Linked DNA regions of Homo sapiens: region 1 is linked to region 2. The links come from fine-mapping of genetic effects on gene expression. A gene starts in region 2. The other region holds a variant in brackets. All regions are shown on one strand. Distances are between the middles of the regions. Region 1 overlaps ADGRA2 (adhesion G protein-coupled receptor A2). Region 2 holds the start of ADGRA2 (adhesion G protein-coupled receptor A2).

Region 1 (5,368 bases), 25 kb before region 2:
TGAGCTGAGACCATGCCATTGCACTCCAGCTTGGGCAGCAAGAGTGAAACTCCATCTCGAAAAAAAAAAATTGCATCTTAAAGGATATCATCAAGAAAGTGAAAGAGAACCACAGAATGAGAGAAAATATTTGCAAATCAGATCTGATAAGGGATGTCTATCTAGAATATATACAGGACTCTTACAACTCAATAGCAGAAAGACAAATAACCCAGTTGAAAAAAATGGGCAAAGGATCTGAATAGACATTTTATCCAAGAAGACACACAAATGGCCAATAAGCCCATACAAAGATGCTCAACATCACCAGCAGTAAGGGAAATGCAAATCAAAGCCACTTGACACCTACTAAGACAGCTGTAATAAAAAAGAGAGACTCCAGCAAGTGTTGATGACGATGTGGAGAACTGGAACCCTTACACATTACTGGTGGGAATGTAAAATGGTGCAGACACTTTGGAAAACAGTTTCACAGTTCGGGTTACCATATGACCCAGAAATTCCACTCCTAGGTATATATCCAAGAGAAATACAGATACATCCACACAAGAACCCATAGCTGAATGTTCACAGCAGCATTGTGCATAGTAGCAAAAAGTAGAAACTGGCCACGTGTGGTAGCTCAAGCCTGTAATCCCAACACTTTGGGAGGCTGAAGTAGGAGGCTCACTTGAGACCAGGAGTTCAAGACCAGCCTGAGCAACACAGTGAGACCCCTATCTCTACCAAAAAAGAAAATTGGCCAGGCATGGTGGTGCGTGCCTGTAAGTCCCAGCTATTCAGGAGGCTGAGACAGGAGAATTGCTTGAGCCCAGGAAGTCAAGGCTGCAGTGAGCCGTGATCATGCCACTGCACTCTAGCACTCTAGCCTGGCGCCAGAGTGAGACCCTGTCTGTCAAAAAAAAAAAAAAAAAAAGGTTGGGCATGGTGGTTCACACCTGTAATCCCAGCACTCTGGGAGGCCAAGGCAGGCAGATCACAAGGTCAGGAGTTCGAGACCAGCCTGACCAACATGGTGAAACCCCGTCACTACTTAAAAATACAAAAATTAGCCGGGTGTGGTAGTGCGCGCCTGTAATCCCAGGTACTCAGGAGGCTGAGGCAGGAGAATCGCTTGAACTCGGGAGGAGGAGGTTGTAGCAAGCCGAGATCGCACCACTGCACTCCAGACTGGGCAACAGAGTGAGACTCCATCTCAAAAAAAAAAAAAAAAAGTAGTATCCACCCAAATATTCAAGAGATGAAGGGATAAACAAAATGTGGTGTAGTCATACAATGGAATATTATCTGGCCATTAAAAGGAATGAAGTGCTGATACGTGCTATAACATGGGTGAACCCTGAAAGTACCATGCTGAAAGAATCGAGTTATGAAAGATTACCTATTGCATGATTTCATTTATATAAAATGTCCAGAACAGGCAGATTTATAGATCTATAGACAGAAAGCAGATTAGTGGTTGCTTGGGCCTGGGGAAGAGGGGGTGGAGGAATGAGGAGTGACTGTTAATGATTCAAGGTTTCTTTTGCGGATGATGAAAATGTTCTAAAATTAGATTATGGTGATTACACAATTCTGTAAAATATACTAGAAACCATTGGATTGCACACTTTTTTTTAAACGGGTGAACTTTTATGGCACGTAAATTATATCTCACTAGAGCCGTTAAAGAGCATGTGAGTTAAAGAGCATGTGACTGTGTGTGTGTGTGTGTGTGTGTGTACCCACATACAGGCAGGGTGGGGCCGCAGAGAGTCAGCTCCCTCTGGCCCCACAGACCTCCCTGCTTGTGGGTTTGAAAACCAAATTATAGGTTCGGAGGCCACAAAGCAGCCTTCCCTGGGCCTACAAGACTTCCAGGGTTCACTAGAAAGTGGGGGCTGGCTGAGAAGTGGGCCAGGACACCCTGCAGGTATAGAAGTGTCTAGGGGAGGAAGGGAGAGGTTCTAGTCCCATCCTCCAGGTGCCTCTTGTCTCTGATAACAATCCACAGGTTATTTATTGAGCATGTACCCCATGCCAGGCATGGGGGCTACCATGGCAAACAAGAGGGCTGTCCCTGAACACATCAGCCTTCCCTCCTGGGCCTCAGTGGTGCAGGAGTCCAGGCAGCTTGTCTGCGGCATTCCTCCCCAGTGTTGTTGGGGACGGGGAGGGGAGGAGGGACAGAGCCCAGCAGCCTCACCCTCGGCCCCACCCACAGACTAATGGAAGCCACCTGGCGTTGGGCAAGCCTCACTCCACCCCCAGGCCGCCACTTTCGTTCGTTCCCATGAGCATCTGCTTCTAATGAGCGCCTCAGCACCCCTGCATACCAGCCCCCGGGGCTCATTAATCTCATTAAGTAATGACAAATCATCCCGGGGCTGACCGGGCTCCCCTTCCCAGACTCTTTCCTTTAGCCGTGCACGAGCCTCTGGGGGCCAGTGTCCACACAGACCCATGTGCTGGCAGGCACGCAGTCTCGCTCCCTTGGCCTCTCTTGGGGCTGTCTGCCCTGGCCGGCTTGGTCCCTGGTCTAGAGGCATCTTACTGTGACTGACACCCTCAGAGCCCCCCAGAAAAGTCTTCCTGTGGCCTAGTCCCCATTGCATGTGCTTGGCAGGGGATCCCGGGGAATGAATCACCAGCTGTACTTGGAGCATGTATATTTCAGCTACACAGTTGCCTGCCCAAGGCTGGGAACTGTAGGCAAATCTATGCAAATGACAGGCGGCCAGGGTAACATCTAGCAACTGGGAAATCTTCAGAGGGGAAGGGAACTGCCTGCCATATACTGGAAGCCTGTGCTGCCATGCGTTCTGTGTAAGGAACT[C/A]TTCCTCTGTTCCTGTAACAATTCCTCATAGCCCTATTTTCCAGGTGAGTAACCCAGGGCTGGGAGAGGCACTGGAAGGTAAAAGAAGGAGGGATGATTCCACTCCAGGCTGCTTTTCACACCAAATGGAGTCCAGCGCTCTTTCATCAGCTTCTCTCTGCCCCAAAAGTCTTTCCTTTGGGCAAGAAACAGTCTTGGCCATGCTGGAGGGTGGTGGGAGAGAGAGAGGGCACAGACGTGCAAGGTGGGTCTTCTGTACACTCCCTGGGCGGCCCAGGAGGTGTTTCTGCAGGGCTCTGTTTCAGGTCTTCCTGTCTATCCTATCTGGCTGATAAAGGTGTGTGCCCCCCCATCTCCACCCCTACCCCCAACCTCTCTGGATGATCATCTCTGACACATTCCCACTGGGCATCCGCTCTGTGGCCCCTTCCTTGCCCATCCTGCCCATGCTGGCCTCAGGACCCTGCATTGCAAAACAGATACCACGCAGATCTACTCCCAGCTCCTGTACAACAAGGCGACCCCCTCACGTACACACAGCCCATTTGCAAAGGCTCAAGGGGCTCTCAGCCAAGGAGGCCATGCAAACACATTCTGCAACAGCCTGGAGCTTCCGTTTCAGTTAACAGACTGGGCCTCAACCCTCCCACTGGACGTGCTGCTCATAGACTGTGGGATGTTAAGTTGCCATGGCCTCAGCCGCCCAAGCCTAGACATCTGAGTTTGACAGGACAGAGGGATCAGTGTTTCCTGAGCACCAACTACATGCCAGCCCATGGAGTCTTATTCCTGATGAATAGGCCCTCAGTCTAGGGGTCATCTTGCCCACTGGCACCTAACCCTGGATGAGCATGAGAATTGCCTGCATAGCATGTAAAAAATTCCCAGGCCCCATGGGACAGATGAATTAGAATCTCCAGGAGGGAGGCCCAGCATCTGTATTACCCAAGGGCCCTCTCCTTCTGGGGGGATAGTGGTTGTGATGGTTAGTTTTGTGTCAGCTTGACAAAGGCTATAGTACCCAGTGGTTTAATCACACATGAATCTAGATGTCGCTGTGCAGGTATTTTGTAGATGTGGTTGACATCTGCCATTAGCTGACCTCATGTGAAGGAGATGCTCCTGTATGATGTGGGTGGGCCTCATCCAATCAGCTGAAGGCCTTAAAAGCAGACACTGAGGCTTCCTAGAGAAGAAATTCTGCCCCAAGACTGCAGCGTCTGCTCCTGTCTGACTTCTCAGACTGCTGGCCTGCCCTACAGATTTGGGGTCTGCCAGCCCCCACAATCATGTCAATTCCTTTTTTAAAAAATGTCTTCATGGCCAGACGTGGTGGCTCATGCCTGTAATCCCAGCACTTTGGGAGGCTGAGGTGGGCAGATCACTTGAGGTCAGGAGTTCGAGACCAGCCTGGCCAACATGCTGAAACCCCATCTCTACTAAAAATACAAAAATTAGCCAGGTGTGGTGGCACGTACCTGTAATCCCAGCTATTCAGGAGTCTGAGGCAGGAGAATCACTTGAACCTGGGAGGTGGAGGTTGCAGTGAGCCAAGATTGTGCCACTGCACTCCAGACTGGGTGACAGAGTGAGACTCTGTCTCAAAAAAGAAAAAAGAAAAAGGCCGGGTGCGATGGCTCATGCCTGTAATCCCAGCACTTTGGAAGGCCAAGGAGGGCGGATCACAAGGTGAAGAGATCGAGACCATCCTCATCCTGGGCAACATGAAACACCGTCTCTACTAAAAATACAAAAATTAGCTGGGCATGGTGGCGTGTGCCTGTAATCCCAGTTACTTGGGAAGCTGAGGCAGGAGAATCGCTTAAAACCCAGGAGGCAGAGGTTGCACTGGAGATCGTGCCACTGCACTTTAGCCTGGTGACAGAGCGAGACTCCATCTCAAATAATAATAATAATAGTAAGTATTTGCATATATAAATACAGCAGTGATCAGTGACCACGTTGGAGACCCTGAGCTCCTCCAGCCCTGAACAAGCACCATCCCTGTCCTGCTGCCCACGGCACACCCTTCTGCCCAGATGGCCCCTCCTCTGGAAAGCCTGGCCCTGTCACTGGGTCCTGTGATTATCTTCTCCTTATGGGCGCTGTGGGTGTCCCACACACATCCAAGGATCATAGAATTTTAGATCCATAATGCACCTCCCAAATCACCCCATCTACCCTAGCTCTTCTGACAATGAGGAATCGAAGGCCACCCCAGTAGCCACCCCGGCATCACATCCTACCTGTCTCCTGCCACCTCCCCCTGGCTCGCTTTGCCAGCTCACACTGCCCTTCTATTTCTCAGACTCCCCAGGCATTCCCTGAACCCAGGGGCCTTGGCAATGCCTGCTCTCTTCATCCTTCCTGAGAGCTCCAGGCTTCCTTCCTCGTCCCTTCAGGTCTCAGGCCCAGGCATGTCATCAGCAAGGCCTTCCTGACCTCACTACATAAAATAGCACCCCTGGCCCTCTTGCTTTCTCACCTCCTTACCCTGCCTTGTTTTTCTCTGCTGCACTTAGGCCTCCAGACACACCACACACCTATTTGCTA
Region 2 (5,368 bases):
TTTCTCCTCCAGAACTAAGTGAGCTGGGGAATGCCCAGGCCTGCCTGGACCCTCAAACCCCAGCGGACAGTCAGAGAGAGCTGCCCTGAACAGCCACAGGTGCCTTCCCTGGCCACAGCCTTACCCTGAGCAGCAGGGAGGCGGCAGCGAGCAGACACACCGCCTCCACCCTTAAGGCACACACATGCACACACACACCCGGGCCGGGGAAAATGCAGGCCGGGCGGCCAGCGTCAGAGGCTGACCAGTTGTGTCCTGTCAGGAAGCGGGCAGCCTCTGAACTCACCCAACCAGAGGCGTTACTGTATTGTTCTGGACACAATCGAAAAGACTGGGCCAGCCCCGACTGCGGGCAAGGGGCGGTGGAGAAACGGTTGCCACTGGGGTCAGGAGGACAGGGAAAGGGAAGCGGCTCTTAGGCTGGATTTGGGACAGGAAAGGAAGCGGCGGCCGCGGGGGCCCGACCCTCAAATCCACGGCGTGCGTGGAGCTGCGAGCACGTGGTCGGCGCAGGAAATCTCTGCGGTGGGGAGGGGTCGCCAATGCTCGCGCGGCTGCTGGGACTTGCGACCCCCTTGTAGGAGGCTTGGGGTCGGGCTGCGGCGCTGCAGCGCTCGCTGCCAGCAAAGCAAAGGCGTACTGAGGCCCTGACTAAGAGGGAAGTCGCGGAAGGAGGCCCGGGTGGGCTGCGGTGAGGGAACCCCGCTTCCCCAGCCGCGTTTCTTTCTTCGCAATCTTTGCGCGAAGTCAATGGAGAAACAGCCAAAGCTCGAGTTACTTCCAGGAGAGGCAAAGGAGAGGCAAGGACGCGGGACCCAGCACAGAGCTCACTGCACAAACGGCGCCGTGGGAGAGGGGCCTCTAGAGGGATGGGGACGCCAGGGTCTCCTGCAGCCCAGGAGCGCCGGTATTCCAAGGGCCGACTTTTCTGAGCCCAGCCTCCCCTTGCCCTAAGGAGACCGGCTGGAAGCGGCGCTGGCAGGCCAGGGGGCAAGGATGGGATGACCCCAATTGAAGGGACAAGGCCAGCCAGGTAAATCCGGAGACTCCTCCAGCCCAGTCCGGGACGCGACCGTAGTGGTTAGGACCACAGCCCCCTCCTGGGCCACGAGCGTCGATCTTTCCTGAGCATTCCCCGCTCTCACCCTTCTCAGGTCCCCAAAGTCCGCAACCCTAGTCCAGGCTGGAAATCCGGGGCGTGGGTGCCCTGCAGGCGTGCTCTCCACTTCACCTGTGCAGGTGAGTGGGCGCCTGCGGTGCCTTTCTCTGGGGTGCGCCTGTCCCCCGCAGCCCCTTCCCGCCTCCACGCTCCTGGAGCCCCAGTCTCTCCCCTGCTCCTCCAATCTTCCCCTCTGGGGGCCTGAACCCAGGCCTGTCCAGAAATCTCTGAAGTGGGGGGATAGCCCCCTTCCCCCTGCTCCCACCCCTCCCGTCTCGCCTCCCTTCGTCCCCAGTCCCGGCTCGGACGGAACTGGCCTGGTAGGGTACTCACAGGGTAACGGTGCCGTTAGGCAGAAGGCCGGGCTCGGGAGGCTCCGGGAGGTCCCCGCCGCTGCACACCACCCTCCGCCGAGCCGGGCCAGGGACGCCGCCGCTCAGCCCCTTGGGCCGCTCCCCCGAGCACTTGCAGCTGCGGATGGATAGCGGGCAGCCGGGCGCGCCCCGAGCCTCGGGCGCCAGGAGCAGCAGGAGCCACGGCAGCAGCGGCAGCAGCAGGCGCGCGGGCGCCCCCCGCATCCTGCGTCCCCCGGCGCCCATCAACCCATCGCCCCGCGGGGACCCACAGCGCTGGGGCCGGGCTGCGCGCCGGCCGGAGGGACCCAGGCGTGCGGGAGGAGTGCTCAGCGGGGGCCCGGGGCTCCCGAGGGCGTGGAGGGGGGCCCTGGGCGGAGGCGAGCCCCGGGGTCCCCGCCGCCGCGCCCCGGGGGCATGTCCTGCGAGCGCCCCGGCGGGGAGGACGTCGGCGCGGCTGTCAGCGCAGCGCGGGCAGCTCCCAGCTGCGCGGCCGGAGTCTCAGCGCCCGGCCCTCGGGACACTGGAGGCCCGGCCCCTCCGCGTCGCCTGCTCGCTGGGCGCTGGGCTGGGACCTAGCGGATCGCGCCGGGCTCCTGCTGCCGCCGCCGCCGCCGCTCCGTGCCATGGATGGAGGCAGCTCCGCGCCGCGCCGCTCCCGCCGCCGGTCCCCGCCCGCCCGGGCCTTCCGCGGGGCCCTAGCGCCGACCGACACGCGGCCAGGCCTAGACCCTCTGCCGAGTGGGGGCGGGCCAGCTGGTTCGAGGACCCTGCGTCCCCGCGCCCGCCCTGCACCAACACTCCTCTCCCGCTTGTCCCCGCGCCCCGGGCCAGGACCCTTCCTTTCCGCAACCCATCTCAGACCTCTGAGCCGACCACCACCACCTTCCACAAAATTTCCCTCGTCCGTGCCGGTGCAGCTTGCGTCTCCAGGCTGCTGGGGCCCTCCTGGACCCGCGGGCTTGGACAGAGACGTCTGGGGCGCCCTGTTTTGGGTTGAACTTGGTGGAAGGCTCCGAGGTTTCCTTTGGCCCCTGACACGATGATCAGTCTGGAAGTCGGCTCTCACTCTCCTTCCAGCTCCGGTGGAGGCAGCCGCAGGAGGATGGCAGCCGAGACAAGGAGGCAGCAGACCCTCCTCCGCTGCGGTGACCTCGCTCAGCGGGGGGTGCATGTCATTCGGCCAAGGAGAGGTCAAAGGCCAAGGCAGACAAGGCTAGAGGCTAGACTGGGCCTCCTACATTTTCCACAACGCTGTGTGTGTGTGTGTGTGTGTGTGTGTGTGTGTTTCGGGGACAGTGAGTGGGACAAGGGAAAAGTAGATGAGAAGGAGCAGGGCTTTGCAGCAGGGTGTGGAAAGAGCACTGCGCAGTGAGTCTGGAGACCCCTATTCCAGACTCGGCTCTGCCTCTCATTACTGTCTGACCTTGGACACAGCCCCTAGCTTGCTGGGGTAGCAGATCTCTGGGGTTGAAATGGGGCTCTGCCTGCTCCCCAGTTTATAGAGTGGCATTAGATGCCCAGTAAATCGTGGCATTAGAATAAGAGAGTGTGGTGGGGGGGAGGGGCACATGGTTTCCAAAGGCAGAGGACTGGTGGTGGCAGGGGTGACCTTGACAACTAGTGGTGGGTATAAAGCTGCCTGCAGGCCGGGCGCGGTGGCTGACACCTGTAATCCCAGCACTTTTCGAGGCCGAGGCGGGCGGATCACTTGAGGTGAGGAGTTTGAGATCCACCTGGCCAAAATGATGAAACCCTGTCTGTACTAAATATACAAAAATTATCCGGGCGTCGTGGTGGGCGCCTGTAATCCCAGCTACTTGGGAGGCTGAGGCACGAGAATTGCTTGAACCCAGGAGGCGGAGGTTGCAGTGAGCTGAGAGCGTGCCACTGCACTGCAGCCTGGTGACAAAGTGAGACTCCGTCTCAATAAATAAATAAATTAATTAAAAAAAAAACAGCCTGCAGTACACCGGAACCAGGGCTGGGGACAGGCAGTAAGAAGTGCAGCCCAGGGGTCTGCTTCCTCTGTTTCCCCACAGAAGCTCACCTTTCTGTTGCTTAATAGAGCTGCCGGGATGGGGCAGGACTCCCGTTCCCCCTCCTTCACTCTACCACCCAAGCGGTCCCCAAGGTGAATGCCACATTCTTTAGTGAGCTTAGCCCTGCTGATGTGCGGTGGTGCCTTTTCTAGGGCCCCTGTGCCTGTCAGCCAAGTCTACCCTGACTATGCAGGGAATGGCTTTCTTCTCTTGCCCGTTGGCGTTGGCGGCAGGCAGGGGCCTAGATGTTGGCTTCTTCACTTTCCCTCCCTGGCTCCACAGATCTCCCCCAGTTGCAGGCTCTCTGGTTCCTTGAACTTCCAAAGATAAATAAATAGTGATTGCAAATGGAGGAAGGGAGAAGGGGAATGGACTCCCCCAGCAGGAGCCCTCACAGGCGGTGGCCCAGGCTGCATTCCTCAGGAAAGAGCTGACAGCAGAGCCACAGCCCATAGGCAGGGCTGTGCAGCCCTCCTGCTCACAGGCAAGGAAGACTCTGAGATCTCTGGCCTGGGTCATATAGCTTTTCTGTGATTTCCTTTGGCTAAATGAAGACACTCAAAGTCTAAAGAAGAATTCTACTGGAACACCCACTCCTGGAGGCTGAACAGAGGCCAAAGGACATTTAATGAGGCGAGGCTTCCCCACCACTAGGAATGAAATGTCTGATGGAGACATCTACAAAACACTGGACTGTCCTGAGGGTCACCACATTTGACTTCTTACCCACCCAGGGAGGTGATGAAGTGGAGGTTACTTTCTTATTTTGCAAGTATGGATGAAGAAACTGAGTCACTGAGACTAGAGTCCAAGGGTAGGAACTTACTTTCTGATTCCTTTTTTTGTGTATGTGTGAGACAAGGTCTCTCTCTGTCACCCAGGCTGGAGTGCAGTGGCAGGAACACGGCAGCCTCGATCTCCTGGGTTCAATCCTCCCACCTCCGCCTCCCAAGTAGCTGGAACTACAGGTTTGTTATTGCATGCAACTAATTTTTTTTAATGTTTTGTAGAGATGGGGATCTCGCCATGTTGCCCAGGCTGGTCTCAAACTCCTGGACTCCAGCAATCTGCCTGACTTGGCCTCCCAAAGTGCTGGGATTACAGGTGTGAGCCACCATGCCTGGCCATGAGCATGTTTGTCTGTTTGTTTGTTTGTTTGTTTGTGATGGAGTCTAGCTCTGTCACCCATGCTGGAGTGCAGTGGCACAATCTCAGCTCACTGCAACCTCTACCTCCTGGGTTCAAGTGATTCTCCTGTCACAGCCTCCCAAGTAGCTGGGATTACAGGCGCCTGCCACCATGCCTGGCTAATTTTTGTATTTTTAGGAGAGACAGGGTTTCACCATATTGGCCAGGCTGGTCTCAAACTCCTGACCTCAGGTGATCCACTCGCCTTGGCCTCCCAAAGTTCTGGGATTATAGGAGTGAGCCACCGCAACCTGCCATGAGCATGTTTTAATCCTTTTTTCTTCTTATTTCTAGTATACCGTGCCCGGCCATGGTTCCTTTTTAAGTGCTTTCTTCTCTGAGCCACAGGGAGACTTTCCCCTGGGAAGCTTCCTGCAGACCTCTCCTCAGAGGTGCAGTGAGGAGTGAATGAATTGCCCACATCAAAATCTTTTTGTTTTGAGGTTTGTTTGAGATAGGAGAATGACTCGAATTTAGTTCCAGACCTCAAAAAATCTGCTAGGGAGCCTGACCAATTAAACACACCTTGATCAGAGGTGATAAGCTCTTCAGTGGCGATCACAGAGACAAGACTGAATTAATTCCGACCAGAGCAAGGGAGAGGGGACTTTCCGAAAGAGTCTGTT

What was found.
Region 1: its variant is fine-mapped to the expression of ADGRA2 in whole blood (INTERVAL, PIP 0.99).

The regions. Positions count from the first base shown.
Region 1 is chr8:37,818,739-37,824,106 of GRCh38, reverse strand. The region is part of intron 2 of ADGRA2 (adhesion G protein-coupled receptor A2); the gene reads right to left. Among named protein-coding and RNA genes, the nearest start is that of ADGRA2, 25 kb to the right of the region's middle. RefSeq lists an enhancer at 1,727-2,300. The variant C/A (reference allele first, on the strand shown) is at 2,816.
Region 2 is chr8:37,793,659-37,799,026 of GRCh38, reverse strand. ADGRA2 (adhesion G protein-coupled receptor A2) reads right to left here and starts at 2,144. Exons shown (of 19, transcript NM_032777.10): 1 at 1,493-2,144. The coding sequence starts at 1,758. RefSeq lists silencers at 1,530-1,619, 1,900-2,069, 2,080-2,319 and enhancers at 2,583-3,148, 3,149-3,714.